5 separate regions of the Homo sapiens genome follow, and all the other regions are reported to be linked to region 1. Evidence: microRNA targets listed by miRTarBase, many of them from high-throughput screens and not tested one by one. Region 1 holds a microRNA gene; each other region holds the end of a gene's coding sequence.

Region 1 (5,000 bases):
CTGTGGGCCTGAGAAGTAGGAGCACAGAGGCTCCCACATTTATCTTCCACTCTCATCAACCCTCGGCCTTCCTCTGCCAAGTCTCTTGAGCCATTTGGGCAGAGATTTCTGGTGATCACTGGAGAGGCATCATGAAAACTACTGGTCAAATGGGCAAAACAAACCTATGGTGATAAAAGTCAGAAAAGTTACTATCTTGGTGATAGTCTAGGGGGTTATTGGCTGTAAAAGGCAAGAGGGAACCTTCTAGGGGTGTTGGAAATCCTCCATTTCTTCATCTGGCTTGTGGTTGCAAGGCACACGCACATACAAAATCATCATCAAGCTGTATATTTTGATCTGTGCAATCTACTATCCACAATTATACCTCCATAAACAATATTACTGTCCAAAATGTTGCAGGCAGTTTATCTACCTCTTATAGCATGCCTGACCCACTTTATTCTGGAGACACTGAAAGTTCTAAGTATCTGTAGCCATTACACATCTTTATCTTCCTCCACAAGTGTGTTTATACCCACAGGTTATATTTATATCTGCAGCCACATCTATATATTTAAATCTGGAGAGGAGAGGAAAGTGTTATATGTATGTGTCTATATATAGGGCAGTTTACTTCTTTCAAAGAACAAGAGGATCCTAGCACTGGTATTTTTTTTTTTTTTTTTTTTTGAGCAGGACATTCATTCACACACACACACACATACAAGCACGCATATGCACACATGAACACTAAGTCTGCGTGCCTTTGTCTCTGTTCCAGGATGAGACGCTAAGACTGACCTTGATGATGATCTCAGGGATGGTTAGCACGGTGGACTTTTGCTTGGCCAGAACATCCCTGGTCTCATTGATGCGAGCTGTGACAAAGAAGTGCAGGGACGCTTGTTCCAGCAGCTGACCCATGTACTCGCCGGCTTGGATCAGCACCGCCTCTTTCTTGACTAGTAGGAGAAAACACACACAGGCCTGGCATCAAGACTTGAGACAGGGTCTGCTTTACTTTTCTCCAAGTTTCCCTACCCCTCCCACATTAGCCTGGAAGCCACCAGGAACACAGCAAAGGTAAGGGGCAAGTGGAACAAAGAGTCAATTGGGGATAAGCTGTCCTGCTTCTTAGGTAAAGAATGTGCTGGAAATTTAATATTCATTGAAGTCTCACTGGAGAAAATGTGTCAAACCTTCCAAACAGTTCTTTTGCTGTTGTAAAAGAAATGCCATGGAAAAGATGTGATTTTCATGGCAAAGAAGGACCAATGGGTTTTAATGGTGGCTTTGATTTGGGCCGGGATCATCCCAAAATGGAACATGTGGGGTGCTGAAGTCCAAGGCCCCCATTCCACATAGGATCCCTTGTCAAATAAGAAGTGTCTCACCTAGGCCATGGGCCACACTCAGACTAAATTGTCAACTACCTACACATTTTCTCTGTAGCATTCCACATTTTCTCTCCAATCTGATATGATTTTTCTATTTAAGAGAAGGAAGCTGTTGAAACCAGTTTCTACCAAAGGCATTCAACTATCTCCGAACCTCTGTTTGTGATTTAGAAGACCTCTGTGCCAAACAATTGTTTTCTCAATGGAAACCAGTCACTGATGTCAGATTTCTAGGTCCTGGGGACAAGCCAATGAGAATGGCATTTGGAAGATGGAGAGTGGTCCTGGCTCCCCTCCAATTACCATCTGGGCTGAGGATGGTGAGTTCTATCTTGTGGCTCTGGCTCACTTTCTCTCTAACTCCCATTTCCCACTGTCCAGGATTCTAGAGAGCAATGGGCAGTTTTTCTGTAGGCTGAGCCCAGGTGTGCACCCACTGCTACCTGGTTGGAGCCAGATGCCTGTATGTGCCGACAGCTGGCAGACTCCGCAGGTGAATGGGTGACTCATTCCTCCATCCCCAGCCACAGAGAACAGACTCTATGAACCTTCACAGAACTGAATGTCTTTACTGCTTTCCTTCTCAGTTTCTGGCTTTTGCCAAAGACTTCCCCTTCCTGTGGAAGTTATTGAAGGAAACAGCTTCATGGCCAACAGTTTGAGCACAGAGGGTAATTCATTTTAGCCTGCTGTACTGAACAGCAGTTTTGCAGCAGGGTGGGGTGCCTGTGGATGGGCATGCACCAGAGCAGAGGGCAGGGCCCCTGACTCCCCACTGGCTCGAAGGTGTGGGTGCATTGAGCCATGCCCATCATCTGTGGAGGAACTCTCACACCTGCGATGGATCTGCAGCAGCTTGCTCTGGACCTTGAAGACCAAGAGGCTGGGAAAGCCTCTGTCTTGGGCAGCACTTCTATTTGGAAGTCTCTTTACAGATGCGTAAGTGCTGTGCCTTGCTTCCAGGACTTCTGATTGAAGAGTTCTCAGTCATGGCTCTATATCACAATCACCTGGGGACCCTTAAAGACCTACCAAGCTGGCTCTCATTCCAGGCCAATTAAATCAGAGCCTTGGAGGACCTAGACATCTGTATTTTTAACAGCTCTGCAGCTGACTCTGATGTGCAGCCAGGGTTGAGAAGGGCCACTCCAACAACCAGGGGCATCCCTGTAGAATCAGCCCTGCAGACAGCCTGGGTTCCAGTGGAAGGGATGGCTTTCCAGTCCAGGTCTTTGCTGTTCCTCCTGCGGTCTGCACACCAGCAGCACCATCATCACCTGGGAGCTTGTTACAGATGCAGATTCTCTGACTTCTTACTGCACCAGTGAAGTCAGGATCTGCATTTGAATAAGACCCCAGACAATGCCTATTGAAGTGTGAGATACTCTGAGAGACAGGAGGTTCTAACAGCAGAAGGGGTAAGTTAGGGCAGAGTTAGGGTGGACTGAGAACTACCTGGGTTTTAAATTGAAAGGCCTGCATCCTGAGAACCCCATCAATCCCTGGAAAACTAGAAAGGTTGGTCATCCTAGACTAGTAGTTGTCAATAGGAGGCAATGTTATCCCCAGGGGACATTTGGCAATGTCTGGAGAACTTTTTGATTGTCACAACTGGGGTGGAGGGTGGGTTACTACTGGAATCTGGTGGATAGGGGCCAAAAATGCAGTTAAACATCCTACAATGCACAGGATAGTCCCACAACAAAGTATCCAGCCCATAATGTCAATGGTGCTGAAACCAAGAAACCCCGCATAGGGCAGGTGGATTATTAGAATGTATTGGCCTATTTTGGGCAAGCGCTAAAGAGCTAGCTTTGTTGGCTTGATTCCTGGGGCAGAGCTATTCCATTTAGAGCTGACTCTTTAAAGCTATGACCTTGCCTTGACCTTGGCCCCCAGGTCCTGCCTTTTGGAATGACCCGCTCTCGTATTGCTGTCTTTGGACCTAAGCCTGGACCCTGCTTCCTCCATGGCTCCCCTTGCAATTAATTGTTTAGATGAGTGAGGTTCTGGCCCTCTATTGGTTACAGCCTCAGATGAGCACAAATGGTCAGTTTATCGTGTCTCTAGATAGAATGGATGAAGTGGCAAGGTGGAAGGCCTCGAAGAAGATGCCTTTTGCCTCTAGCTGTTTCCAGTAATAACAATAATAAAATGACTTCTTCTGACTATTTCTAGAGGACTATGTTTGACCACTGGATTTCTTTTGGCTAATGGGATATGATTTCTTTACAGAGGCTCTTGCTACCTTTATAATCTCAGTATCAGGACCCCTTTCTTCTCTGAGGTAGAACACTCCCTAAATCATAGCACTAAAGAAACCAGGCTGTGCTTCAGAGCCCAAGAGAACAGTGCTTCTGAAATAGTATGTTATGTAAGTGCTGTGTTTTGCCACTGCACAAGAAATTGTTCTAGATAAAGTTTATTAAACGTGGCAGGAGAAGGAGGAATAGGTTTTCGCTCTATGAGCGGTAGGGCTGGGATGCTGCCAATATCATTTACGGTGTCTGGGGAAAGCCAAGGGAGACACAGACTGGAGCTGCCTCATCTCTTTTCCAAAAAGCAAAGAAAACTAAATATAGCCAAGTGGAAATGATAGCACCTTTGAAGGTACGGAGAGGTTTAAGTTATTCAGATCTCCCAAGCTGATTCCAGCACACACATTCCCTTTAATCATCAATCTGGAAAGTATGCCTCCCATTCTACTTGGAAAGCTTTCTTTGCAGCAGAGGCATCTAAGAATGCTTGATCAAGGCCTGAAGTTATGTGGCTTTTTGCAATACACTGCAATTTAATTTATATTTCAATATACAATTTATTGGTCACAGTTAATACCACCTGCCTGCAGGGCAAAGGAACAAAGAGTCTCCAGTTCCCTTCAAGTTATTCAGGACAACCTGGGGCTGGCCAAGCGAATGGGAGATGTGTTCCTATGGACTCAGGCATAGGTTTGGTCAGCTGTCCCTAGGTCGATGACTGAGAGAATGATATCATTCTACTCACCCATACAAGCTCATTCTTTAATTGGATTAAAGAGGGAAGGGGAAGGAGATTATGAGACAGGACACTTGTGAGGTGGGAAAAGGGCTGGCATTTGGTTCTTTGTCTAAGGATCTGTGCTAGACTCCAGGTAATGGGAGCACAAGGAAGGGACCTGGCCCACTTGGGGCCAAGTTTACCCTGAACTGGCTCACTGTCACTGCTATTATCTGTCTACTCTATTATCTGCTTTGCCTCTCATTGCTGTGTGGGGGCTTGAACACATCGACTCATCTCTCGAGCTTCAGTTTCCCCAAATGTAAACATGTTGGAAGTTACCATTTACTAAGATTCTACCATGTGGCACACATTTCACATTCATCACTCATTTGGCTTCCTCCATACCTTCCTTCTCTCACACCACATATCCAGTCTCTCAGCCAATCAGGCGGGCTCCACCTTCAGCACATGCCCAGATCGGACTGGTTCTCGCTGCTTCCATCACTGCTATCAACCCCTTTCAGTGGAGTGATTGCAGAAGCATCCTACCAGTCTCTAACCTTCCGCCCTACTTCCTCTTTAGTCTCTTCTCAACACAGCAGCCAGTGGTCTTTTCAAAACCTAAGTTAGATTATGCCACAT
Region 2 (6,665 bases), not on the chromosome of region 1:
ATGAATAAGAATATGGAGAATGAATTAGAAAGGACTGAGAGTAATTGTGGAGCGGATCTTTCAGGAGTCCAGGGGATAAATGCCAGTGGCTCTGTCACGAATTTGCAAGGCCTTTGAGAGTAGGAGATGAGAGAGTTGGAAGACATGCTATATTTCAGTGGGGCCCATGGGAAGGCTTAGCAAGGCCTCACTCACTGCTAGAAGATAAAATAACTGTAATGAGAAATTCAGGTAAACCTTCCTATTGCTTGCTGCTCTCTTGACTTAGATGGTATTTTTGGTCAAATTAATCAGTATTCTAAATGAATTAAGTATGAATATTCTTGGGTCATTTGCTAATAAGTAAGAAAGAATTAGAGAATTATAATCATGCCCGTAAGAAAAAAAAATTGTATACTTCATGAATCCATCGATCTTTCTATCCATCTCACAACTTTTTAAAGGGTTACTGTAGTACTAGTATCCAAGTACTAGCTCCAGATGGTCTGCAATCCTCCTGAAGTTTTATGTAAATTGTCTTATCTACATACATCTCTCTGGGGGGCAACTTGAAGATTCAGATTCGATTTTTATTCCTATTAAAGAGTAAGAATCAATGGCTTACTGTGTTTTAGGTCTAGGGTATGCAAACATTCATAGGAAATAATCTTCATTCTTAAAGCATGTAAAGTTTATATCATATAAGCACATAAATGGCAAAGTCACATTGTCAGTGCTGTAAAAGAGATAGGAACAAAGCTCTGAAAGCTTGTCAGTTACTCTGGTGCTTTTTCTCCTCCAGGTGACTTCCCAAGTATGCCTGGCCACAATACCTCCAGGAATTCCTCTTGCGATCCTATAGTGACACCCCACTTAATCAGCCTCTACTTCATAGTGCTTATTGGCGGGCTGGTGGGTGTCATTTCCATTCTTTTCCTCCTGGTGAAAATGAACACCCGGTCAGTGACCACCATGGCGGTCATTAACTTGGTGGTGGTCCACAGCGTTTTTCTGCTGACAGTGCCATTTCGCTTGACCTACCTCATCAAGAAGACTTGGATGTTTGGGCTGCCCTTCTGCAAATTTGTGAGTGCCATGCTGCACATCCACATGTACCTCACGTTCCTATTCTATGTGGTGATCCTGGTCACCAGATACCTCATCTTCTTCAAGTGCAAAGACAAAGTGGAATTCTACAGAAAACTGCATGCTGTGGCTGCCAGTGCTGGCATGTGGACGCTGGTGATTGTCATTGTGGTACCCCTGGTTGTCTCCCGGTATGGAATCCATGAGGAATACAATGAGGAGCACTGTTTTAAATTTCACAAAGAGCTTGCTTACACATATGTGAAAATCATCAACTATATGATAGTCATTTTTGTCATAGCCGTTGCTGTGATTCTGTTGGTCTTCCAGGTCTTCATCATTATGTTGATGGTGCAGAAGCTACGCCACTCTTTACTATCCCACCAGGAGTTCTGGGCTCAGCTGAAAAACCTATTTTTTATAGGGGTCATCCTTGTTTGTTTCCTTCCCTACCAGTTCTTTAGGATCTATTACTTGAATGTTGTGACGCATTCCAATGCCTGTAACAGCAAGGTTGCATTTTATAACGAAATCTTCTTGAGTGTAACAGCAATTAGCTGCTATGATTTGCTTCTCTTTGTCTTTGGGGGAAGCCATTGGTTTAAGCAAAAGATAATTGGCTTATGGAATTGTGTTTTGTGCCGTTAGCCACAAACTACAGTATTCATATTTGCTTCCTTTATATTGGGAATAAAAATGGGTATAGGGGAGGTAAGAATGGTATTTCATTACTTGATCAAAACCATGCCTTGATGTACCCAAAACAAAAGGACTATAAAATGCAAGAGCCCTCATTGTAGTCCTTATGGGATCCCTCCCATCTCTGAGTGATGGCCGTACAAAGACCAGTGTTGTTGAATCCACCTGGAGTTGCAATATTACATTATTTTCCAGTACAGAATGTCTGTGTGGCCCATGAAAGCAACATAGGTTTTAAGAGTTTTAGAGTTTCATTAGCTCATTCTAAGTTCCTCTGTTTGAAGCATGGTCTCTTAGGTTTTGGACTGAACTCAGACCTTTAGTTCTTTTCATCCCACTTCACCTTAGGTAAGTAAATTCTGGCCACCACCCAGCTCCAAAGACACAAACTCTCCTTCGCTAACCAGGTTAGATGTCCCATTCATCTCATGCCCTGATAAAAACTGATAAGGGGAGAGAATAGTTAAAAATTTTTCTAGGGTATCATAACTCTGGTAGGAAGTCATCTGTCTAGAAATCAAGAGAAAAAGAACGTGTGGCCTCCTGTTATAACAAGGGTTTCTAGATTTGTCCTGTGAAAGGTCGTTTAAGGACTTGGGGATCAACTTCCTCAATTATCACCAATTGCACTGTTGCTCCAAAAATCATTTAAAAGCTTACTGGACATATCTACATAATGGTGAAACTGTAATTTAGAGACTATCCCTGACTAATGTGCTGGTAGGCATTAAAATGAGTTCCCAAGGGAAGTGATTAAAATTTTTTTCTCTTCTGTTTTTTGAGAGAATTTCTAGATGTCCTGGGCCACAGTTAATTAAGATTTTTAGGGGGGACAGAAAGTTATACTGAAATCTTTAGAGCTCCCTTCCGCCGTTAAAATTATATATATATATATTTAAATTATACCTTAAGTTCTGGGGTACATGTGCAGAATGTGCAGGTTTGTTACATAGGTATACACGTGCCATGGTGGTTTGCGGCACCTGTCAACCCATCTACATTAGGTATTTCTCCTAATGCTCTCCCTCCCCTAGCCCCCCACCCCTGGACAGGCCCCATTGTGTGATGTTCCCCTCCCTGTGTCCATGTGTTTTCATTGTTCAACTCCCACTTCTAAGTGAGAACATGCGGTGTTTGGTTTTCTGTTCCTGTGTTAGTTTGCTGAGAATGATGGTTTCCAGGTTAAAATTATATATTTTTAAATAAATGAAAACTGTGTTTTTAAAAGAGGACTTTTGAGAAGTATATAGAAAAACCATTAATTTAGACTCTGTGAGATTAGGTTGCATGAAGAAGGTTTTCTGAATATTTGAAGAGTGGATAAATAAATGTCCCCCAAAGCAATAAAATCATAATCCTTTAAAATATAGGAAAAATAACTAATGGGAACTAGGCTTAATACTCGGGATGAAATAATCTGTACAACAAACTCCCATGACACATGTTTACCTATGTAACAAACCTGCACATGTACCCCTGAACTTAAAATAAAATTTAAAGTAATAATAATAAAATAATATGGATTTTCTTTCCAAATTCGGAATTACTTTTTGTAAAATTGTATTAATAACTTGTGGCATGTGGCACGTTAAACTGATTTTATTTCAAGAACTTCTGTTACTGGCTAGGTTGATACATAGGCTTGTGGGTTTTTGCTTTTTGGGTTTTTTTTGCTCCTGCCCATACTTCCAGTGTCTTCAGTGTTTTATCTTAAAATTTTCCCAGGATCTGATCCAGTTTCATATTTAATGCTGCAGAAAACCTGAAGTGATTAGTAACATGAATAGAATAACAGAATGAATTAAGGGAACTTTTTTTTTCATCAAGGTATATCTTCGGGATTTAAAAGTTTTTCATAATTTATTATCACTGTGGATCCACAAATTCCTCAGATGAATAAGAAATACCTCTGTGAATTTCTGTGACCACTAAAATTACTGAGCCACAGAAATTAATTCTGAGGAAGCAGAAGTAGCAACATAGTTCAAACATGACTTGTTTCCATATATTTTCTGTTTTATATATTCTTTTAAATATCCTTTTAAACAAGTAATATTTCTTTTCTTTCTTGCCTTTTTTCCCATTTATTTTTTACATTTTTTCTTTCTCATTTTGAACCATAAAATTTGTAAGACCGTTACTAAGACCCCTGATAGTTTTAAGAAAATTTATAATACCTATAAATATGTAAAAAAAATTTAGAAAAATATTTAAATTAAAAGTATTCATGAGAATTTCATTACCTTGTAGATTATGTCATACTCTTTTCCAGATTTTAGATATGTTGAGGTCAGGCAATTCAAAAGAATTAATCTCTGTATTAATCTGTTATAATGTTAACATAACACTATGTTATTTTCATATATTATAATAACAGGCTTATTAGAAATGTTCTCAAAAGATAGAAATGCAATATTTCATAATATAAAATATCTTTTTCATCAGTATTTATGGAATAAATAGAAAAATTTTAGTTTTCCTGTTCTTTGTCTTGAATCAATACAGAAATGAACCTCATGTGACATTGGGAGTGACATTGGCCTCTAGGGCCATTTTTGGATATCACCATTATAAGAGAGCACTAGTATTAGCATTTGGTGGTGGGAGCCAAGGAATAGACATCTTGCCTTGCACATAATTGTCTGTACAATAAAGAAGTATCAGGTCTTGCTCTCTATTTGAATACTCTATTAGATATTAATGAAGTGAAACATATACTCATAACAATCAGAGCAGCTATCAGGTTTTACCCAGTTTTCGTAAACACGTAGTATTTTTTTTTGTATAGCTTTAATTCTCTGAATTTTCTGGAAATGCAGCTATCATGGATTGAAGAAAGATTTTACTTTGGTTTCCTCTGAGCTTTACCAAGAGTTGTTCAGTACTTTGGAAATGACATTATAAGTAACAATACCATTTATGACATTAAAATATGACACAACATACCTGTAAGCAATATTTGTAGCTATTGTATTCAGGAGATATTACATACAGGTGTCAGCATCAGACTCACTCATTTTGTCTCTTTATGTGATTATGCCTGAGCATTTACACACTGAATTATATACTGTTATCCATAACTTTTCTTTTCATTACTCATTTATATTACAGTGAGAACATTATACGTAAAAATAATGTGTATGTTTACATTATTAGTGTAGAAAGCATATACATTTCATTTTGAAATGGTAAAATTATCTGTAAGTTTCCTTTTAGAATGGTAAAAGTATTACCAAATATTTGTGATAAAAAGCAAGGTATTGGGTCTGAGAAAGCTGAGAACCACTGAATTACCACAAAGGGACAAAATAAGAGGGAAATTTATAAATTTTAACATTATAAACAGGAAAAATATTTCAGTGTTTTTGAAATACTTACCTCATCTTCATTCAATTCTAAATTACTTCTTTTGTTTCTACAGCAATTAAATGCAACTTTTAGAAAAATGTGAAGAAAATATACATGTGTATTTTCTTTTTTAATAAGAAAAATACACTTTTTCTGAGCCTCACCACTCTCAGATTGGCTCTTGATCAATATCTACCAGATTTTTAACCCAGACATAATAATTTTTGAGGCCCAGGGAGAAAGATCTCTTCAGGCACCCATTAAAAGGGACACTATTTGGCTCTTGTTTATTCCTTAATTTTCCTGTGAAAGGATCATTGAGTCCCCTGCCTTCCTCCTCAACTTCATTTAAATTAAGGAGAAATTGTAGGTGAAATGAACTTTGTGTAAAGTGATTCAAGAGGTGTTAATAAATCCCTCTTGCCTCCCCAAATCCTCCTCAATGAAGCTGCCATGAAAACTCGATTGTTGGGTTAAGAATCAGTTTTTCTGAAGGAGGGTATTGGGCCAATCCATTCTCAGTCATTGGCTTTTGGTGTGAAGTTAGAATTTGGGATGCTGTCATAGCTTTGATTGGATAGATTTTGCCCACTTTCCTCTATGAGACAGACATAGGCCAAAGACTCTCACACCTATTGGTACTGGTAGGAACAAGGAAGCTCTTCTTGTTATAGGGGCCAACTACAGCATTCTGTAGACAGTTGGTACTGAGAGCTCCATGGTAAAGGGGCACAGGGATGGCAGAACTGTGGGGATAATGCCCAGAGATTGCAACATGCCAAGGGACACCCATGGGTATTGGAAACCAGGGGAATCTGAAGACCCAGCAGGAGCTGCTGGGGAAATGAGACCCAGGTCTGAGAACGGCTAGCTGAGAGCAGGAGGGGCTTGTGTGAGTCTTGCTCAGGAGTTCTGAGCAAACAGGACTGCTCTTGGAAGACAGGGCAATGGAGGCAGCAAACAAAGACTGTTTTGAACAGGAGGTAAGAAAGTGCTGGCGAGCATGGTTTATTTTATTTGCAGTTTGTCCTAATAGTTTATGTCATTAGCAATGAATTATTTCTGCCCTTTGTTGCTGATCTGGGCCATAGATCTCATGGAGGACAGGGTGTGGTTACAAAGATGTAACCACTGGCAACCTGATCAGAGATTTTGGATAAAGATCTCCAGCTCATCCTTAAGTCAAGTAAGAAAAGAATCCCTTGGAATTTAGAGAAGGGTCTGAAGAGTTTCCCTTCTGTTTTCAGGAAAGCATCATCTTACATGTCAGGAGTAGACACTTGCCAAAGTCTACACCAGCCTCTGGCACCCTCAGGAGGGTCTGGAAAGACATCTAGGCCCCCTCTCCAATGATGTTCAATTCTGTATAACACAGCACACTTCTTACCACAGCCCAGCTGGGTACCCCATTCTCTGAGTTGTCCTTTGCCTCTCAGAATTCCATTATTTTCGTAGCATTGTGCTTAACAGTGGGACACACTACTGACCTGTACACTTAAGAACGGCTAAGATGGTTGATTTCATGTCATGCATATTTATCACAATAAACAATT
Region 3 (6,665 bases), not on the chromosome of region 1:
GGAGGAGGCTGCAGTGGGCCAAGATCTCGCCACTGCACTCCAGCCTGGGTGACAAGAGCGAGACTTCATGTCAAAAAAAAAAAAAAAAAAAAGAGATGCATCCCTTTGGGAGGCACCCCTCATGAATGTGATTCATGCCTTTATGAAAGAGACTGAAGGGAATGTCTTTGCCTCTTTAGGTCTTTCCAGAGACACATAGAAGGTGCCATCTATGAGGAACAGGCCTTCACCAGACATCAAATCTGTTGGCATCTTGATCTTTGACTTCTCCACCGCCAGAACTGTGAGCAATAAATTTCTGTTCTTTACAAATTAATTAGTCTAAGGTCTTCTGTTATAGGTGGCTATCTAATGGGGCAGATTGTTGGGAACAAGTTTCTATACTCTTTATTTTTCTTATACTACATGACTAAATTCTCCACTTTAATGTTTTATTGCAGTGGTAACAATGTATAGGCTTATCATGTTTTTGCACTTAGATAGAACACTTCTAATGCTTCACCACTAAGTATGGTGTTTGCTTGAGGTTTCTGGTAAGTAACTTTTTTCAAAATATTGAAATTGCCTTCTATTCTTAGGTATCCAGGATTTTTAAAATGTTATAACTGAACGTTGATTATCATTTGGTTATTATTGCGTATTCTCTTGCTATGGTGAGTGGTATCTTTTCCTAAGATTTTTATTGTTCTCGCATTTCTGGGATAAATTGTACTTATCATAATGTATTAGTATTTTCATACACTTGGATTTGATTAGCCAATATTTTATTTATCTTTTGTTCACAATTATGATGGCTTCTAATTTCCTTTCTTGTGCTGTTTCTGTTTTATAGTATCAGTTTTGTGTTTGACCATAAAAGAATTTAGTCAGTAATAGTTTTTTAGTGCTTGAGATAGAAAGGCATTTCAGAGACCTGGACATGTTTGTTTGACCAAGCAGAGCTTTCAGAAAGTCTAGCTGTTTGGAAATTTATGAATTACTTCATGTGTATTACAGGAGGGTCGTTTTCTGTTTTCAGAGATCAAGACATGAAACCCATGTTCAAGATACTTTCCAGTGTGTCTTCATGTGATCCTCTGAGTCCAGCCATCAGGCTACCAGCAGCTCTTGGAAACCCTGACATACTTATTCTTAGAAGACTGCTTTCCGGACTCAAAGTGGAACCTCAAATTTTCAATTTTCTTTGTTTTTAAAGCCTACACATAGGTGATGATATATACATGCATATATATTTTGGAGAATTTATAATTCTGAAAACAATGCTGGTCTTATGGAACCCATCCATTCCCCTTTCCCCGTGTGTGCTCCGAGCTGTGGTGGCACGTGAAAAGGGGTCCTTCCAGCAGTGGCCCACAGCCCTGGGCTGCTTACTTGCTCACTTCATTTACAAGAGCAAGAAATACACATTCTTGTGTTGTTTAAGTCATTATGATGTGGGGATTTCCATTACTCACACACCTGATCTAGTAGTAACACAGTAGCCTATTTTAGCAATATCATTTATTCAATAATCCATTCTTTCCCCATTAGTTTTGAGCCTTCATTTATTGTGTACTAAGTTCTGGTTATTTTTAGTGGTTGTAATCTCCTTCTTTCCTACTCTCTTAATCATGGGATTGCCAATATCTGCTCTGTGTTTCTGTGCCATCTATAGCCTCTGGCCTTGGTACTGCTTCAAAACTGATATTTCTAACCTTACTTTGACTTCTCCATTCAGTGAAGTTCCCATAGTTCATCACTCAACTGCTCTCTTTCCATCGTGACCTTCTGAACTAGCTCACACCCAGATGTACTTTTGTTATCTGCCTTTCCCCCTCATAAACATGGGCTGCTGCTGGGGAAAATCCACTACCGAACTCTTGCAGGTCTCTGCAAATGTTTAATGCCCTGTCTTAGCCATGACCTCCACAATGCTGGGCTATCCTATGTTATGTCCCCTAAGATATCCCTTCTCTCTTACCTTTGGGGATAGTCCTAAGCTTCCATCATGGCACTCAAAGTCCAACCTTATTTGTACCCTCATTCTCTGAGCAGACACCACCGTATTCTGTTTCACAGAGAAAATGTGACTGCTGGGGATAATTCTTTCAACTTCCTGGCCTCTTCCTATACATGATCTTTCTCTGTATTCTTGCCTATTGCTCTTCCATGTTGATAGAAGTGTCTGTTCTCCTTGTCAGTGTCTCGGCCTTGGATCTGTCCCCTAGACTATTCTGCCTGTGTAAGGACCTTCCCTGACCAGCTGGGCCACCATCTCCTGCTTCTCCAATCCCTCACTCTAGACTGACTCTTAACCTTTGGTCAACAATACTTGAGCTTTTACATTCATAATGGAGCATCTGTGTTGAACCTTGTTCTTTTCTAGACACTACCCTCCGTTCTGTCTTCCATCCATGGTGACTTTTCTAGAAAGAGCATCTATCACACTGGAGACAGCAAACTCCTTGATCCATTCTAATTCCTAACCCTGCAATAATTTTCTATCTCCCTTACTCAAGTAATTGGGAGTGCTCCTAGTGTTACCAGAGACCCAGCAGTTCCCAATTTCGAATTTTTCCGTATTCACATTTCTTGACTTGCTATGATTTTACATCACAGATTACATCCTTCATTTGAAGAGACTCTAATGGAAGGCTGCCATGGAAACTCTCTCATGTGGCTGACCTCCTACCTCACTTGCTCTTTCTGAATGAAGTTCCCACTTTTGCCTGCCTTAATGAAAGTAATGCTCCCCAAACTCAAGCCCAGGGCTGCGAATTGGAAGCAGCTGGGGCTACTGTTTCTGGGTGCTGGTGTGAATGGCAGGATGTGAACACCAGCCTGTGACGGGCAAAAAGATGGACACACAGGCAGAGCCTGACAGGTGCTGGTGGTCCTATCTGGTCCTGAGTTGCTGGGACCCTCCTTGCCCACTGCCCCTAGAATGGACTTTGGCCTCAGGTTCGAAGTGTTCAGATGTGACTGAGATGAGCCTTTTCCCCATGCCTCAGGAATAGCGAAGAAACTCTATCTGGAAGGTTCCCCAGGCTTCCCCACCCAGCAGCCTCTGGTATTAGACCAGGCAGTGGCTGGCCAGGATGGTGGGGACAGAAGGGAGACAAAGGTGAGCAGTGGGTGGGGTCACATCCTCCCTGACATTGAATAGACAACATGGGGAGGAAGGATGAGTGATCTTTAGAATGTTCATGGAAAATGCATATTGGGAAAAAGAATGCATGAATTTCAAATTGTTTTGCAACAAAATAAACTTGTACTAACTTGTGAAAACACGTCCGAACAGGATCTAGTTTGAGGCCCTAAGAAGTATAAGACAACAGTTTGAACAGAGCTCCTATCAGACACATGAATTCTGCTAAAATTGAAACCAGAACAAACATGCAATTGATGGTGAAGCTTGGCTGGAAACATGGTGAAATCATTGATGATTTATTGAAAGTTTATAGGGACAATGCCTCAAAGAAATCAGCAATTTAAGTAAGTGGATAACTCATTGGAAGAAGAGAAGAGATGATGTTGGAGAGGAAGTCCACAGCAGCAGGCCAGCCACATCAGTCTGTGAGGAAACAATTCATCTTGTTTGTGCCCTAATTTAAGAGGACTGATTAATAGCAGCAGAAACAATAGCCAACGCTGTAGGTATCCCAAGGTGTTCAGCTTACACAATTCTGACTGAAATTAAAGTTGAGTAAACTGTCCACTCGGTGGGTGCCAAAACTTTCTCCCAGCTCAGCTGCAGATAAGAGAAAAGCGTTCTATGGCCATTTTAAACAAGTGGAATCAAGATCCTGAAGCATTTCTTCATATAATTATAGCCGGAGATGAAATGTGGCTTAACCAGTACACTCCTGAAGGCAAAGCACAAGCAAAGCAATGACTACCTAGAGGTGGGCGTGGTCCCATCAGAGTAAAAGCAGACATGTCAAGGGCAAAGGTCGTGGCAACCGTTTTGTGAATGCTCAAGGCATCTTGCTTATTGACTTTCTGGAGGGCCAAAGAACAGTAACATCTTATTATGAGAGTGTATAGAGAAAGTCAGCCAACGATTTAGCAGGAAAACACCCAGGAAATCGTCACCCCGGAAAGCTTCACCAGAGAGCCCTTCTCCACCATGACAATGCTCCTGCTCATTCCTCTCATCAAACAAGGCCAGTTTTGTGAGAGTTTCAATGGGAAATCACTAGGCATACACCTTCCAGGCCTGATTTGGTTACTTCTGTTTTATAATTTTAAAAAATCTTTAAAGGGCACCCACTTTTCTTCAGTTAATAACGTCACAAAGACTGAAGTGGCATGGTTAAATTCCCAGGGTGCCCAATTCTTTAGGGATGAACTGAATGGCTGGTACCATTACTTGCAGAAGCGTCTCGACCTTGATGGAGCTCATGCTGAGAAATAAAACATTTTTTAATTTTTATCTTTTAATTCAATTTTTTCGTGAACTTTTGAAGTCCCCTTGTATTTGTTTTTGGTGGAACTTTGAGTCTGATTTCTCAGCTCCCCATGGATGGCTGCATCTTAACAGAGAAATGAACGCCATTTACCCTGATGCTCTCTACTTGGCCTAAGTTTCAGATGTTGAACACACACGTGTGGGAATTTATGAATCTGTGCACCTGTGCCAGCTGGTGGGTGAAGTCTAAGTTTCTTCAACACAATTAGTTATCTTCTGCCTCCTGGAATCTGGTAGGAAAGGTTGAGGAAAAGCAGCCATCCACAGCGCCTCCACCACTGGAATGGGGGCAGCCCTAACGTGTGCCCCACTGCCCCCCATGCTGAGGAGTCCTTCACTCCAGGGATGTCTTCACCCCAATCATTCAGACTCCCCCAGTGTTCCTGCGTCACCTGAAAGGTCGGAAGCATCTCAGCACATACTCTCCATGAGTGGTACTTAGGCCTCCCTCCCCATCAATACTGAAGCCCTCAGAGGCAGAGGGGAGTCAAGGAAAAGAGTGGCCATCAGCAATAAATGAGTTACAAGGTTTGATTTCAAAGAGAAAAACTTGTCACCAAAATCACTACTCAGGAGATCTGGACTTCCTCTGAATGTGAGTTAAAGAACCCTTGAGGGTTAAGAGCCAACTGCACCTGATCCCCACTCTCCCATCCCAAGACCCTGGGAAGTCAAACCAAGAGGTAATCAACAGAAAACAAGTTTAATGCAACAGGTGACAACGGTCTGGAGCGAGTCCATGCTCCGGAAGGCTCAGTCTGTGGCAGTCCCGTGGCTCAAGACAGGCTGAGGCCGGCTGCAATGGAGGCCAGCAGCAGGAGGATGGCCAGCCACAGCCCACCACAGCTCTCACCCATGCTCCCAGCATATTCTTTGAACACTGATGAGTTGATAGGTGGCCCCTCTAAATTGCAGTAGCGAATTTTACAACACTTGAGGTAAAAGAAGGGCATGGGCTCTTCCAGGAGAAACCGCTTCTCCTCTGGCTTGGGTCTCTCCATCGCTGCACAACCAGCGGAGCACTGCTTCGCAACCATGAAAAAACGTGGAAATATTTCTAATAGGAAATAAAGACCGAGAGAAGGCAATCACGCAATTCCAATGCCTGACACCGAGGCCCTTCTGTCTGGGTCAAAGCCTCACCCCTGGCGGCCCTGCTCAAAGGTGCACAGTCAACTGGGGCACCAAGGGGGAGTCGGGAGGACGAGGGCCAGGCCTGTGTGTTGAATGCTGCTTCAGGGAAGGGCTGGCTTCTGCGTGGTATGGCCTGTCCATATGCACTGGGAATGCGGGTCTAGGGGTTGCTGTTTGGGAACAAACAGGTCTCAACTTCTCAAACACAGGGTTGGCTCAGGCCTTTGTGACCACAGACAGACACATGACTCCCAGCCATTCTGGCCATCACCCAGGGTGTGGAGCTGGCCTCTTGGTGGGCCTGGCTCGACTCTGAGCTGGGGGTCTTGTCTCATGACCACACTTCATCTTATACATCACTGTACAAATCATTTTGCCATATTAAGTTATAAAGTCGATGTGGGCCACACTGAGTCTGAAGCATCACCTCAGCACCCCACCAACTTCGTGGATACCGAAGGGCTGGAGAGTGACTGCTGGGCGGAATCAGAATTCACGAGCCCTGAAGATCTCCCTGTGGGCAGAATGTGCTGGGTGTCCAGATTCCCCTTGGGGAGGGCTTCATGTACCCAGAGGTTTTCAGGGGAATCACAGATGACAGAGCAGTGGTCTCCACAATTTTTAAGGCATGCACCCTCCTTTGAGAACACACTTGAAGGCTGTACACCTTGGTTTTGTGCATCTCTTGTAAGAGTGACATAGACACTGTTCTCTGTGGCGCATTTAACACTATTAAAGCTTAATTTTTCATTTAAAAATGGATGATATGAAATCCAGATTTTCTTCCTACCTCCCAGTATTTCATCTGGACCCACTGTAGCAGGCACTGCCTTACACTAGCACAGTTCCTACACCTCTCTCTGGCCTCTGAGGACTTTGCTCTTCACATTTTAAAGGGAAAAAAAGGCAGGGCGCGGTGGCTTACGCTTGTAATCCCAGCACTTTGGGGGGCCGAGGGCGGGTGGGTCACCTGAGGTCAGGAGTTCGAGACCAGCCTGACCAACATGGTGAAACCCCACCTCTACTAAAAATAAAAAATTAGCCAGTGTGGTGGCGCGCATCCATAATACCAGCTACTCTG
Region 4 (6,665 bases), not on the chromosome of region 1:
AATGAGACCTGCCGGAGTCATGTAGAGAGGAGAAGGGGCGAAGCTGCCCCTAAATAAATTAGGAAAGCATTTGGGAACTAATGCTGAGTTCATTCATGAGTTCACTAATGCTGAGACAGAAGCTATACCTATCACAGTCCAAACTCCAGTGCTCTCAGTTTTTGCTTTTTTAATACCTGCTATACTTTCACATTGGCATTATCACACAAATAACGTTTACTTCAAAGTAGTTCAGTCACCCAATTATAAAAACACTTGGACCAATTTAACCAGACTGTATGGGATATCACATATGAAATGTGTCTCTTTGGAATCATGGCCATTAAGGGGAAAAATAAAAATTAGCTATCTTTATATAGCATCCAGGGAGAGGAATCAGAACAAGGTAAGTCACCTGAGACAGCTCCCTGTGCTTTCAATTTCCATCCTCCAGCTGGATAAACAAGTACCAAGAGTACACTGAAACTGTTGCATCACTTTGCAGAAATAAAGCACCAAAAGGGATCTCCCAACACTCTAACTCCTTACATTCCTTATTTTAAAGTTGGAGTCTAAAACATGACCAACCATTAATTATCCACTCTACCTCTGCAAGTCCTCGACCCATGGAACATTCTTTCTTTCTTTATATCTTAGCTCTTGAACAGCCAAGAACATCATGTAACACATTGATAAAGACATATCCAAGAAAAACTATTTCATGAGCACCTATGTGACAGGCATTCTTCTGGATGCTAGAGACAGCAGTGAACACATTTCCCACAAGAACTTAACTCCACCTCTACTAAGTTATAGCTGTTGATTATCGAATATAGCCATGATTATAAGCTGTTTTTTCCACTCAATTTCACTATTACTTTTTATTGACTTCAACTTACTTAAACATTGTTCAACATAATTCTTCCATTACTTCCTAGGAATTTGTCAGTAACTCTGTCCTATTTCCTGTGAAGTAGTATCCTTAACATTGGTCCTTTGTTTTTCATATGTGGCTTTTTTTTTTCTTTTTATTGAGACAGAGTTTTGCTCTTGTTGCCCAGGCTGGAGTGCAATGGCACGATCTGGGCTCACTGCAACCTCCACCTCCCAGGTTCAAGCAATTCTCCTGCCTCAGCCTCCCAAGTAGCTGGGATTACAGGCATGTGCCACCATGCCCAGCTAATTTTGTATTTTTAGTAGAGACAGGGTTTCACTATGTTGGTCAGGCTGGTCTCAAACTCCTGACCTCAGGTGATCCACCTACCTCGGCCTCCCAAAGTGTTGGGATTACAGGAGTGAGGCACCGTGCCTGGCCTCATATGTGGCTTTCACTAGTAATTCAGTGATTATCCCCATCGGGTTTCCCAGTGGGATATACAATTCCTTTTGAATCATTAATTTTCTACAACTAAATACAACTAAATAAAGGGGAGATAGAAAACAATTTTTTGTTTTTTAAAAATTTTATATAGAGACAGGGTCTCGCTCTGTTGCCCAGGCTGGTTTCAAACTCCTGAGCTCAAGCAATCCTCTTGCCTTGGCCTCCCAAAGTGCTGGGATTACAGGCATGAGCCACCTCACTGGTCTGGTTTGTTTTTTTGTTTTTGTTTTCTTAAGATAGGGTCTCATTCTGTTGCCCAGGGTGTTGTACAGTGGTGCAAACACAGCTCACTACAGCCTCAATCTTCTGAGCTCAAAGGATCCTCCTGCCTCAGCCCCCTGAATAGCAGAGACCACAGGTATGCACCACCATGCCTAGCTAGTTTTTTTATTTTTTGTAGAAACAGGGTCTTGCTTTGTTCCCCAGGTTGGTCTCGAACTCCTGGGCTGAAGCAATCCTCCTGCCTCAGCCTCCCAAAGTGCTGGGATTACAGGTGTGAGCCACCAAGCCCAGCCTGGGAACAACTGTTGAGTGAAACTCTCTAAATCACAACTCTAACTGTAGTTTTTATTTTGAGAAATGGCTGGGCACAGTGGCTCAAGTCTGTAATCCCAGCACTTTGGGAGGCTGACGCAGGCAAACTGCATTAGCCCAGGAGTTCAAGACCAGCCTGGGCAACATGGCCCATCTCTAATAAAAGCACAAAAATAGCTGGGTGTGCTGGCGTGCACCTATAATCCCAGCTACTCGGGAAGCTGAGGTGGGAAGATCACTTGAGCCCAGGAGGTGGAGGTTGCAGTGAGCAGATTGTGCCACTGCACTCCAGTCAGGGTGAATGAGTGAGACCCTGTCTCCAAAAAAAGAAAAAAAAAGAAATAAAGAAAAAAGAAATAAAGTCAATTCAAATCCACAAATTACAATTTGACCCACAAGGACAACGACTATGTAGCTATAATAATTCAAAGCACAGCCTGTTATTTCTTTTGCTGTCTTCTTAATACTTAAAATATTTGCCATTTGTAAGATTACATATAGGTTTAAGTGATTGGGTGAATATAAATATTTCTGAATTTTTGCCACAGCTTAGCAAAATTTATAAACCAATGCTCGTCATCATCCAGGTAAGCTAGAAAACCAAGATTATCATTTTCTGCTTTCCCCAGGATGGTTCTTCATTATCTGCTAGTATATTTGTCTAATTCCTTTGCATGTTCATTTAACAAAGTTACTTTGCCCTCAAAGTAAATATCATAAAATACTACCCTTAATATTTACTTCTGATTACTTTACAAATGTCTAGTATTGGGCCGGGCACGGTGGCTCATGCCTATAATCCCAGCACTTTGGGAGGCCGAGGTGGGTGGATCAGCTGAGGTCAGGAGTTCGAGACCAGCCTGACCAACATGGTGAAATGCCATCTCTACTAAAAAATACAAAAATTAGCTGGGCATGGTGGCGGGCGCCTGTAATCCTAGCTACTTGGGAGGCTGAGGCAGGAAAATCGCTTGAACCTGGGAGGCATAGGTTGCAGTGAGCCGAGATTGCACCATTGCACTCCAGCCTGGGTGACAGAACAAGACTCCATCTCAAAAAAATAAAAAAATAAATAAATAAAGTCTAGTATTTTCCAATAGCAAGACTCACTATTTGGTCTCTCACATTAAATTAAGTGTACACATGGGATGCACTCACGTATTTACTCAGAACCTGCCATTCCATCCATCGCCAGAGGTCCAGGAAAAGATAAGAAAGAAAACATGCTCTGTAATGCTGCTGAATACTAGTTTTTACTGAAGACCAGGCTTCACTTAATTAAAACTGTACTTTAGAAATACCTTAGTAGTTGAGGGGACAGCAGGTGTGTGGTTAAACAAAAGGTAAAGCAAGCTTCATTGTCTAAATAAAATGACAAAATGTGATATATGTTTAACAACAAAAAAAACTTTATTGAATTACAAATTTTAAAATGGATCACTTAAAAGTGAGATTATTTTATTCTGAAACATTATTTCAAAAATGTACTTTGTTTTTGAAATAAAACAAAATCTTCAACTATGAACTGACAAAATAGAGGTGAGTTGGTACCAGTGGGCCAATTCTTAACACGGACATTTAAAAATGCTGCTTTCTGTATTACAACAAAATGATATGCAATAAGAAATTGGAAAAAGGGAGCAAAGGAGAGTGCAAAGCATGTACTGAGGTCTTTCTACGGGTGCCTGACAGAATGCAGATTCAGCATAAAATGTAGACTTTGCAACAGTGGCCTTTAAAGTATGCTAGAGCAAGTGTACCCTAGGGAACCTATGTCAAAACAATTTTTGTCTTACTCCAAACAGAAAAAATGGTACACACTTTAACAAAAGCAAAACTTAATTGTAAGATCTGTACTGTAAAGCTACTTGCTATAGCCCATATATTCAGTTTGTTCAACAATCTCACTCATGACAGAAAAAGTCAGCAAATAAGACTTGGGACAAAATTATTTTCTATCAGTCTCCACATGGAAAGACCACAGCTTTAATGAATTATACAATCCTTAAGATTAATCCTTGGTCAGTATAGATTTCCGAATCAAAATCTAGTCATGAACTGTTTACAATAGCTATACTACACTAAGATGCTAAACATTTTCTTTCCAGTATGTCTTCCTAAGAGGGGAAAAAAATAGTGGGAAGTTTTCATCTTTGCCTATGAGGGGATTTATGAAAAGCCTTCTAAACTACAACAGTGTTCTTCTGCAAAACTAAAACACATTATAAAGTCAAACAGGTAAATTAACAGGAAAACCAAACTGATCTCAATAAAGTCTTGTTTCCAAAAATCTATTAAGAACAAGTAATATACATGTACAAGAAATTACAAGAAATGATGATCACGGTTAGTTACAGATGCAAAATAATATCTAATATTCCAAGCTTGTGAACATAATAATTAAAATCAAATTCATAAGCTACCTCAAAATTATGTACATTTTAGATAAGCTGGTCAAGTATTATTTGAATACACACCATATTTGGTAAACCTAAAATTATATTACCTTTTCTCCTCCTTTAATATTTGTAGCTACATGCCAATATGGAAAAAAATGTATTTTCATTTATGTATTAATAACAGAGAGTAACAGAATTTCTACTGTGTATGTTTCACAGTGTAAAAGAAAAAAAGTTAAGGTATATTTTCCTTTAAGAAAGAAGAAATATTGCCAAGAGTTTAATTAATATCAACTTACTTATAAAAACAGAAAAAATATGTTTTGAAACAGGTACCATAAAATTATTATATGGTCTCCCTACTGATCTGAAACTACAGAAGGCATTTAAGGAAGGGATGTTAGGTCAAAAACAAAGTCTAACCCAAGTTGCTTTAAAAATTTGATTTGCAGGAAAACTAGTTGCTTGGCCTAGTTTAAAGCTAGTTACAAAATCCGTTTTCTTAATGGTCCAGATATTTTGCCAATTCTTCCAACTCAACAGAACTGTCAAAAAAGAAAAAATATTTTGTAAGACCTTTAAATACCAATAAGGTACATTCCCCATTTAATACAGCATACACCTGATATTGCTTTTAAAAAAGATGCATTTTTGAAAAAGATGCTGTATTTTTCACACATAATAATCACCTATCTTAAGTGCCTGACTTTCCCAACTTAGAACTACTAGGAACATACAACTAAAGAACTTGTATAAAACAATTTCAGCATTTTTATTAAATACCTCTTTATAATGTTTTTAAGGTTAAAAAAAAAAAAATAACAATTCCAAAATTGAACTTCTAAAATATGCCACTCTAGGCATCAGCTTTCTATCCTAAAATTGAACTTTCTTAAATTCAATTAAGTACTATGTCAAAACTTGTGTCACAAAGTGCATGTATTCAAAGCAAACTGCACTGTACACCTCATCACCATAATAAAAATGATCCATCAGCTGGGCACGGTGGCTCACACCTGTAATCTCAGCACTTTGGGAGGCCGAGATGGGCAGATCATGAGGTCAGGAGATCAAGACCATCCTGGCCAACGTGGTGAAACCCCGTCTCTACTAAAATACAAAAAATTAGCCAGGCATGGTGGTCCCAGGTACTCGGAAGGCTGAGACAGGGGAATCTCTTGAACCCGGGGCCACAGAACAAGACTCCATCTCAAACAACAACAACAACAAAAAAGATCCATCATGCAAAACAAATCCAAGAGAACAGGCCAAATTTTCTCAACACGATTGAAAAAGAAGGTGAATGTCCCTCTCCTAGACCAATGACAACTTCTGCAACCTGAGATGGGTAGGAAATACTGTTTCAAACCATGAAGACACTTTCAGTAGCAGTAATCTTTCCAGCTCAGAACTAAATCTTTGTACGTAATAAGGGTACTGGGCCGGCCACGGTGGCTCACGCCTGTAATCCCAGCACTTTCGGAGGCCAAGGCAGGCAGATAACCTGAGGTCAGGAGTTCAAGAGCAGCCTGGCCAACATGGTGAAACGCCATCTCTACTAAAAATACAAAAATTAGCTGGGCATGGTGGCACATTCCTGTAATCCCAGCTACTTGGGAGGCTGAGGCAGGAGAATCGCTTGAACCTGGGAGGCGAAGGTTGCAGTGAGCTGAGATAGCGCCACTGCACTCCAGCCTGGGCAACACAGTGAGGATCTATCTCAAAAAAATTAATGAATAAATAAAACAAAATAGGTACTGGCCCCAACCCCTTAAAGTGGAGTTGAAGAAGCCAAATGGATATCTTCGACATGGTTTGGGACTCTGGCCCAAATGGCTTCTAGTTCATTTCTGATTTTCAGAAAGTGCTTTAAGCTAAGTGAATAATTCAAAATGAGCATTAAACTGAAAAGTCTATGTAAGTATAAATGAAAAAAAAAAGAATCTTGTACAAACTTCAGAAAAACTAATAAAAATAGCCAGCATTTTTAGAACACCAACAATTATCAGGCACACTAAATATATTATCTCTACTCTTCATCACAATCCGAAATGTAGGTACTATTTACATTTAATACATAAGAACAATATAGTTCAGTAATGGGAAGTGGCAAAGGAGTTCAAAATCAGTTTGTATGATTCCAAAGACTAAACTCCTACCACGTAAGCCTCCCAAACTCACACCCTTAACATCCTCATCTATAATAATGATTAAAATGTTTTTAGTACTGATATGTATTTCTGCTCCCAAATTTAAATTTTATGCTTTTGTTTCACAAAATCCCTCAAGAATGAATCATTTAAATAATATAAACTTGCCTGTGTGGGACTAATTTCAAGAGCACACAGGCAATATGAAGGCTTAGTGAAAAG
Region 5 (6,665 bases), not on the chromosome of region 1:
AGACAGGGTCTCACTCTGTCGCCTAAGCTGGAGTGCAATGGTGTGATCTCGGCTCACTGCAACCTCTGCCTCCCAGGCTCAAGCAATTCTCGTGCCTCAACCTCCCAAGTAGCTAGGATTACAGGCATGTGCCACCATGTCCAGAGAATTTTTGTATTTTTAGTAGAGACAGGGTTTCACCATGTTGGCCAGGGTGGTCTCAAACTCCTGACCTAGTGGTCCACCTGCCTCGGCCTCCCGAAGTGCTGGGATTACTAGCGTTAGCCACTGCACCTGGCCAAAAATTAAAAGATGTGGAAAAAGACAACAATGCCCACTTTCACCACTTCTATTCAACGTAGAACTGGAAGTTCAATCCAGAGCAATTCAATGAGAGAAAAAAAGGGCATCCAAATTGGAAAGAAAGAAGTCAAATCATCCTTGTTTGCAGAAGACATGTTTTATATTTAGAAAAACCTAAAGATTCCACCAAAAAAATTGTTAGAACTGATAAATGAATTCAGTAAAGTTGCAGAATGTAAAATCAAAATAAAAAAACAGTAGTATTTTTATATGCCAGCAGTGAACAATTTGAAAAAGAAATCAAGAAAGCAATCCCATTTACAATAACTACAAAAAAATTTAGGAATAAATTTAACCAAAGAAGTGAAAGGTCTCTATAATGAAAGCTATGAAATGTTAATGAAATAAATTGAAGAGGACAGAAAAAAATGGAAAAATATTCCATGTTCATGGGTTGGAAGACTTGATATTGTTAAAATGACCATACTACCCAAAGTGTTCCACAGATTCAATGCAATCCTTATCAAAATACCAATGACATTTTTTCACAAAAATAGAAAAAAAATGCTAAAATTCACATGGAACCACACACACACAAAAACTCCTGAATAGTCAAAGCAATCGTTGGCAAAAAGAATAAAAGCTGGAGGCATCACACTACCTTCCTTCAAAGTATACCGCAAAACTATAGTAACCAAAACAGCATGGTATTGGCATAAAAACAAACACATAGACCAATGGAACAGAATAGAGAACCCAGAAATAAATCCATGTATTTACAGCTAACTCACTTTTGACAAAGGCACCAAGAACTTACACTGGGGAAAGAACAGTCTCTTCAACAAATAGTGCTGAGAAAACTGGTTATCTACATGCAGAAGAATGAGACCAGACCCCTATTTCTCACCCTACACAAAATTCAAATGTATTAAAGACTTAAATATAAGACCTGAAACTATGAAACTACTAGAAGAAAACACTGGGAAAATGCTTCAGGAAACTGGTGTGGGCAAATATTTTTGGGGTAAAACCTCAAAAGCACAGACAACCAAAGTAAAAATTGACAAATAGGATTACATCAAGCTAAAAAGTTTCTGCACAACAAAGGAAACAATCAACAGCCACTATGCAAAACAGTTTGGAGGTTCCTCAGAAAACTACCATATGACTCAGCAATCCTACTGCTGGGTATATATCCAAAAGAAAGAAAATCAGTATATCAAAGAGATGTCTGCATGTTCATATTTATTGCAGCACTATTCACAATAGCCAAGATACAGAATTAACCCAAGAGTCCATCAACAGATGGATAAAGAAAATGTGCTATATATACACGATGAAATATTATTCAGCCATGACAATGGCTGAATAATGAATAAAATCCTGTCAATTGCAGCAACATCATAGAATTGGAGGATATTAAGTGATATAAGCCAGGCACAGAAAGACAAATATCATCAAGATGAATCATGTTCTCAGTCATATGTGGGAGCTATAAAAATTGATCTCATGGAGGTAGTAAATACAATGGTGGTTACCAGAGGCTGGAAAGGGTAGCAGGCAGGGAGGGATGAAGAGGGATTGATTACTGGGTACAAAAATACAGTTAGATAAAATGAATAAGTTCTAATATTTGGTAGCACAATAAGGTGACTATAGTTAACAACAATTTATTATATGTTTTAAAAGGCCTAGAAGATCTGGAATGTTCCCAATACAAAGAAATGATAAATGTTTCAGGTAATAGATATCCCAATTACCCTGATGTGGTTATTACACATTGTATGCTAATATCAAAATATCCCATATATCCCAAAAGTATGTACAACTATTATGTAACAATAAAAAAATAAAAATTAAAAAAATAAAGTATATGAGAGGATATGCATAGGCTACATGCAAATACTACACAATTTTATACAAGGGACTTGGACATCTGTGGATTTTGGTATCCACAGGGGGTCCTGGAACCATTCTTCTATGAATACTGACAGATGACTGTATATGCAGTAAGAGTCCTTAGGGTGTTGCTTTTAAGTCAACTACCAATAGCAAATTATAGAAGGGTTACCACTCTGTTTTTTTTTAATCACATTATTTGATTGGTAGTTTGACATTTAGATAAGTTGCGTGAAGGTTTGTAGAAAGATATAATAGGACTTTAAGATAAATCAAACAAGCAATTTCAGTATATAGAAAATTTAATATGAAATCACTTAAAATATTTCAACATTAAGAAGTCTTAATTCAGTGCCTTGGCATGAGACATTTAAAAGCATGTTTGGGTCTAATCTCAAATTAGTTCAGGGGAACAGAAATAGCTGAAAATTTATGTATATGTGTATGTATATATATATATACACACACATCTGTATATACATACATGTATATATTCAAATTATATACATATAAAGATATTTGTAGATTCAAGATATATAGGGATTATATATCTATATATATTATATGTGTGTCTATACAGATATATATATATATATATTCATCTTTCTGTGTGTGTGTGTATATATATCCACACACACATATAAAATCTATTGTTGCTTAGTGGTGGAATTCTCTAATTTTACTCATACGCATATTTTGGAAAGCTTATCTCCAAAAGGGGCACATTAATCGTACATGGAACAGAACCCTTCTCTTCTACTTTAATTAATTTCATTTTAAATTTATTTATTTCTATTCTTCCACTTTTAACTATTATAGTCTCCTTTAAAGTTGTTAATTCAGATAGGAAACTAAACTCACTTTTGTGGAATCAGAGATGATTCTGAGTTGGAAAGAACCCGAGTATGCACTTGGGCCTGTTTCCTGTCTTCAGGCAGAGAGATAAACTAAAGCTAAGAGAGATGGACTGCCTGTTCTTTGCCTAAAAGGTCACATTTCTCAACTACTGGGGTACAAACTATATTTCATGAAGTAATTTTTGTAAAATAATTTTTCTTTAGCTACAGACACAGTAAAGTAGCCATGTATAATTAAGTTTTTAGCTTGCCTCAAATATGACCTTTGTTCTTCTAGAAAAATTTCCTCCAAAATCAGTAGCAGTAGCAAGTATGGCAGAAAGAGAAATGTGGTTCTCCATGGGAGAGAGACTATTTCAAGCAGTCATATCTTTTTAGCAAAATGTTTTGTGAGTTTTTTGGGAGTGTGACACTTTTAGTGCACACTCAAAGACTTGTGTTTTCACATGTATAGAAGTTCATCTGGGGGTTTCCAAAGCCTTCCGTATTTTCACTTATGTGTGGCCTTACAAAATGTAGTTTTTAAAAAATCTATGGTTTACTAAATGTAACACGTTAAAAATCACTGAAAAATTTGCCAATGTAAATCCTAAATTTGGGTTTACTAAGTTAAAATGAAGCGTTAAGACCAAAAAAACATTGAAAATTTTATTTTCACAGGGGATTTGCATAAAAAGAACATTATTTTTGTTCTGTGTATATATAAGTATTTTTGTTTCCTTAACTTGTTTCTGTTGCCCACACACAACTAGGAGAAGATGCTTTTCTTTATTTTGGTTTGGCCAAAGATGCTAATGGTTAAATTATGAAGGACTTTGTTTTACTTATGTTAAGTGGTGAAAACTGTAGTTCTTAATCTATGAAGAATTCTCTAGGTGGCTATACAAGAAAAATACAAAAAGTTAGGAAAACATGTAAACGTAAGTTATGAGGTATTTCATAGATACAGTGCCCATACAAATTCTCTTTCCCACAATTTTCAACTGCCAGATCTCTTGCTTTAGTCTTTTTTCCTTATATTTGGAGAAACAGAAGAGTTTGACATAAAAGTCCCTTTGAGGATGTGAGGGTTGCAGTAGTTTACAGCAGGGTCAGAAAATGAAAGTAATAAAGCAATATTTACATGTTTTTGTATAAGAACAAAAATATTTCCTTAAAAAGTTGTTAAAAGTTTTTTAGTCCTATAAACACTCACTTTTATAGGGCACATGATTGTCTGTGTGACTTCTCTTTCCAGAGGAAGACTTTTTTATTTTTAAATTCTAGGAAAGCATGACTTATTCAAATTGGATTTTCCATGCTATATTTAGTTTTACAGATGTGTTTAGTTCTAAAACTGTGGTTTACTGTATTCTGGGGAGAGCATGTATATAAAAAAACCCAGGAAACCCTTACACCCAACTTAGACACAGTCAGTTTTAACACTCCATTGTGATCTCTCAATTCTTACAGCTTATTACTTCCATTAAGAAGAAATCTCTGAATTCTCTGCATCTAATTTTCAATGGCTACAGTCTGAGAAACTGACCCATTATCACTTTTTCTAAATAGCCAAGTTCTCAAAGTTTCTGAAAGCTCTTTGATCTTTTTTTTCTGGGAGCGAAATAGGTTGTTCTTCTTATATAACAAGAATCAGGAATTCCCAGCAAACAGATTTCATTACGTATAAAGCATATTCCAGAAACACGCAGATCACACATGAATATGCTCTCAGTCATCATAAACAGGCATTCACTCAAGGGGTAAACCAGTAATGAGCCAAACATACGTACTCATGCAAATGTACAATTGACAGCAAATTATTTTAGATCCTAATGTCATTTCAGTGTTAAAAATGAGCTGGGAGACAGCTCCTGTGACATTTGGTATGAAAGCTTTAGATTGCAATTTTCATGTAGAAGTAGCTTCATATCACATCTCGTGAGTTTCGTATCGCACAGCAGAGGACCATGCTGAATATCATGCCAAAGATCTGAAACAGAAGAAACACTCATCAGTGACTTTGAAACGGGTACTGATAGGTAAAAAGTTCAGCAGACTTCCTGGGTGTCTAACTCAAGTTAACAAATAATTATAACCAATAATTACCAGTCACAAATGACATTTTAGTATGTTACTTAAGGTTGGCTATGGGGTAAATAATTCTAGATTAACTGTTTAAATGTGTATTATTATTGTTAACAAGTAACAAGGCTCTGCTTTAAAAGAACCTACCCTGCTTCAGAATTATAGAACCGTTCTGAATACCTGTGAAAGACAGACACAATACTGGCTTTGGAATTTTATATTTCAGGTTAATCCTAGATCTCTTTTATATGTTTATTTTGAAAACTGTGTCCATAACCACTTGTTGTTTAGATATGCTTGTGGTCTAAATAATTTTCTATTGCTGGAAAAGCTCTGATTTTTTACAACAGTGTCCATACATCCAAAAATGGAGTATCAGCTGGGTGCAGTGGCTCATGCCTGCAATCCCAGCACTTTGGGAGGCTGTGGTGGGAGGATCGCTTGAGCTCAGGAGTTCTAGACCAGCCTGGGAAACATGGTGAAACCCTGTCACTACAAAAAATACAAAAATTAGCTGAGCATGGTGGTGTGTCCCTGCAGTCCCAGGTGCTTGGCAAGCTGAGGCGGGAGGATTATTGAGCCCAGGAGGTCGAGGCTGCAGTGAGCTGTGATTGCACCACTTCACTCCCTGGTGACAGAGACCCTGTCTCACAAAAAAAGAAAAAAAAAGTGGAGCATCACTTCATTCTCAGTCCATTTTTAAGGGCAAACGATGCTTCACTGTTTAATTCAATAGTTTTAGCAAAACATAAACTAAAGGGTTTATACTATGGTATTATTGACTTTTACCTTTTGGATAGTTCTCTGAGAAGTTAAATACTTGAGTGAAATCAATATCCACTTCCATGGTTTGAATAGAAGAATGCCAAAGAGTCTTCTTGTCCGCTATTATTTCCCCTACAATTTTGTAGAGCCCATGGAACCCTATCTGTGGGCACCATTCCATAAACTACTGTCAATGCTTATTTTAAAAAATGGGTACTATAACTTTCTGGTTCTCTCCTCAATTCCATCCTAAGTCAGACTAGGATCTGTAAGTGCTAAATTCAATAAGATATGAATGATCAGTTGTTTTGAAAAGGGAGGGGCAGAAGCAGGTAAGGGCATGGCCAGGAACAGGATTTCAAGCTTCTGGATGACAGGACTCAGTACCAGTGTGTAGCACGGGCGACACCCAATGCACTTTTAGTTAGCTGATTACATTGTGCAACTCTCACTTTACAGAGAAAAGAACTAACGAAGAAACCTGGGGGTGCCGACTCAAGATAGGCTCACTATGGGCATTTCCCCTTTATCATTGCCATAAGGTTGGATGTAATCCCTACCCATCCTGGTTTCAGTGAGACTCCTTCAGTCTCAGCCTACTGCCGACACGAGTCAGGGGTGAATGCTTCTAGGCTGCTCATTTGCTGAGATTGTGAAACTCTCCATTATGCAGCACACGCTCAGACCTGCCTCAGGACTGTCCTTTGGGGAGCTGCAGAACTGCAGCCAGGCTATCCCCAGAGCAGGTGGGGAGGACCTGAGAAATGTCCCTTGATTTGGAGGGCCTCAGCAGAG

Evidence for each region. Region 1 holds the annotated microRNA hsa-miR-5683 (UACAGAUGCAGAUUCUCUGACUUC, at 2,669-2,692, shown strand). A microRNA usually pairs through its seed, bases 2 to 8, with sites in the 3' UTR of a target mRNA and lowers its output. Matches are read on the target gene's strand: a 7mer-m8 pairs with bases 2 to 8, a 7mer-A1 pairs with bases 2 to 7 and ends in A, and an 8mer does both.
Region 2: the mRNA of GPR141 is a reported target of hsa-miR-5683. Seed matches in the 3' UTR shown: 7mer-m8 at 2,268-2,274 and 7mer-A1 at 3,180-3,186.
Region 3: miRTarBase lists LY6K as a target of hsa-miR-5683. The part of its 3' UTR that is shown has no 7-base or 8-base seed match.
Region 4: miRTarBase lists TCEA1 as a target of hsa-miR-5683. Seed matches in the 3' UTR shown: 8mer at 4,247-4,254.
Region 5: the mRNA of TSPAN2 is a reported target of hsa-miR-5683. Seed matches in the 3' UTR shown: 8mer at 4,352-4,359 and 7mer-A1 at 2,757-2,763.

What each region holds. Positions count from the first base shown.
Region 1 is chr6:6,166,675-6,171,674 of GRCh38, forward strand. It overlaps MIR5683 (microRNA 5683), which reads left to right and starts at 2,660; the gene lies at 2,660-2,735. It overlaps F13A1 (coagulation factor XIII A chain), which reads right to left. Exons shown (of 15, transcript NM_000129.4): 13 at 784-944. It overlaps MIR7853 (microRNA 7853), which reads right to left and starts at 2,761; the gene lies at 2,630-2,761. RefSeq lists an enhancer at 2,311-2,976.
Region 2 is chr7:37,739,599-37,746,263 of GRCh38, forward strand. It overlaps GPR141 (G protein-coupled receptor 141), which reads left to right. Exons shown (of 3, transcript NM_001381946.1): 3 at 782-4,237. The coding sequence starts at 796. The coding sequence ends at 1,713. Among named protein-coding and RNA genes, the nearest start is that of GPR141, 59 kb to the left of the region's middle.
Region 3 is chr8:142,701,933-142,708,597 of GRCh38, reverse strand. LY6K (lymphocyte antigen 6 family member K) reads right to left here. Exons shown (of 3, transcript NM_017527.4): 3 at 3,471-5,507. The coding sequence ends at 5,227. LNCOC1 (lncRNA associated with ovarian cancer 1) reads left to right here. Exons shown (of 3, transcript NR_038925.1): 2 at 180-283; 3 at 1,019-6,346. Among named protein-coding and RNA genes, the nearest start is that of LY6K, 5.2 kb to the right of the region's middle.
Region 4 is chr8:53,963,275-53,969,939 of GRCh38, forward strand. It overlaps TCEA1 (transcription elongation factor A1), which reads right to left. Exons shown (of 10, transcript NM_006756.4): 10 at 3,282-4,838. The coding sequence ends at 4,830. It overlaps LYPLA1-TCEA1 (LYPLA1-TCEA1 readthrough), which reads right to left. Exons shown (of 21, transcript NM_001425842.1): 21 at 3,282-4,838. The coding sequence ends at 4,830. Among named protein-coding and RNA genes, the nearest start is that of TCEA1, 56 kb to the right of the region's middle.
Region 5 is chr1:115,045,546-115,052,210 of GRCh38, forward strand. TSPAN2 (tetraspanin 2) reads right to left here. Exons shown (of 8, transcript NM_005725.6): 8 at 2,466-5,010. The coding sequence ends at 4,945. Among named protein-coding and RNA genes, the nearest start is that of TSHB, 19 kb to the left of the region's middle. RefSeq lists an enhancer at 1,126-1,662.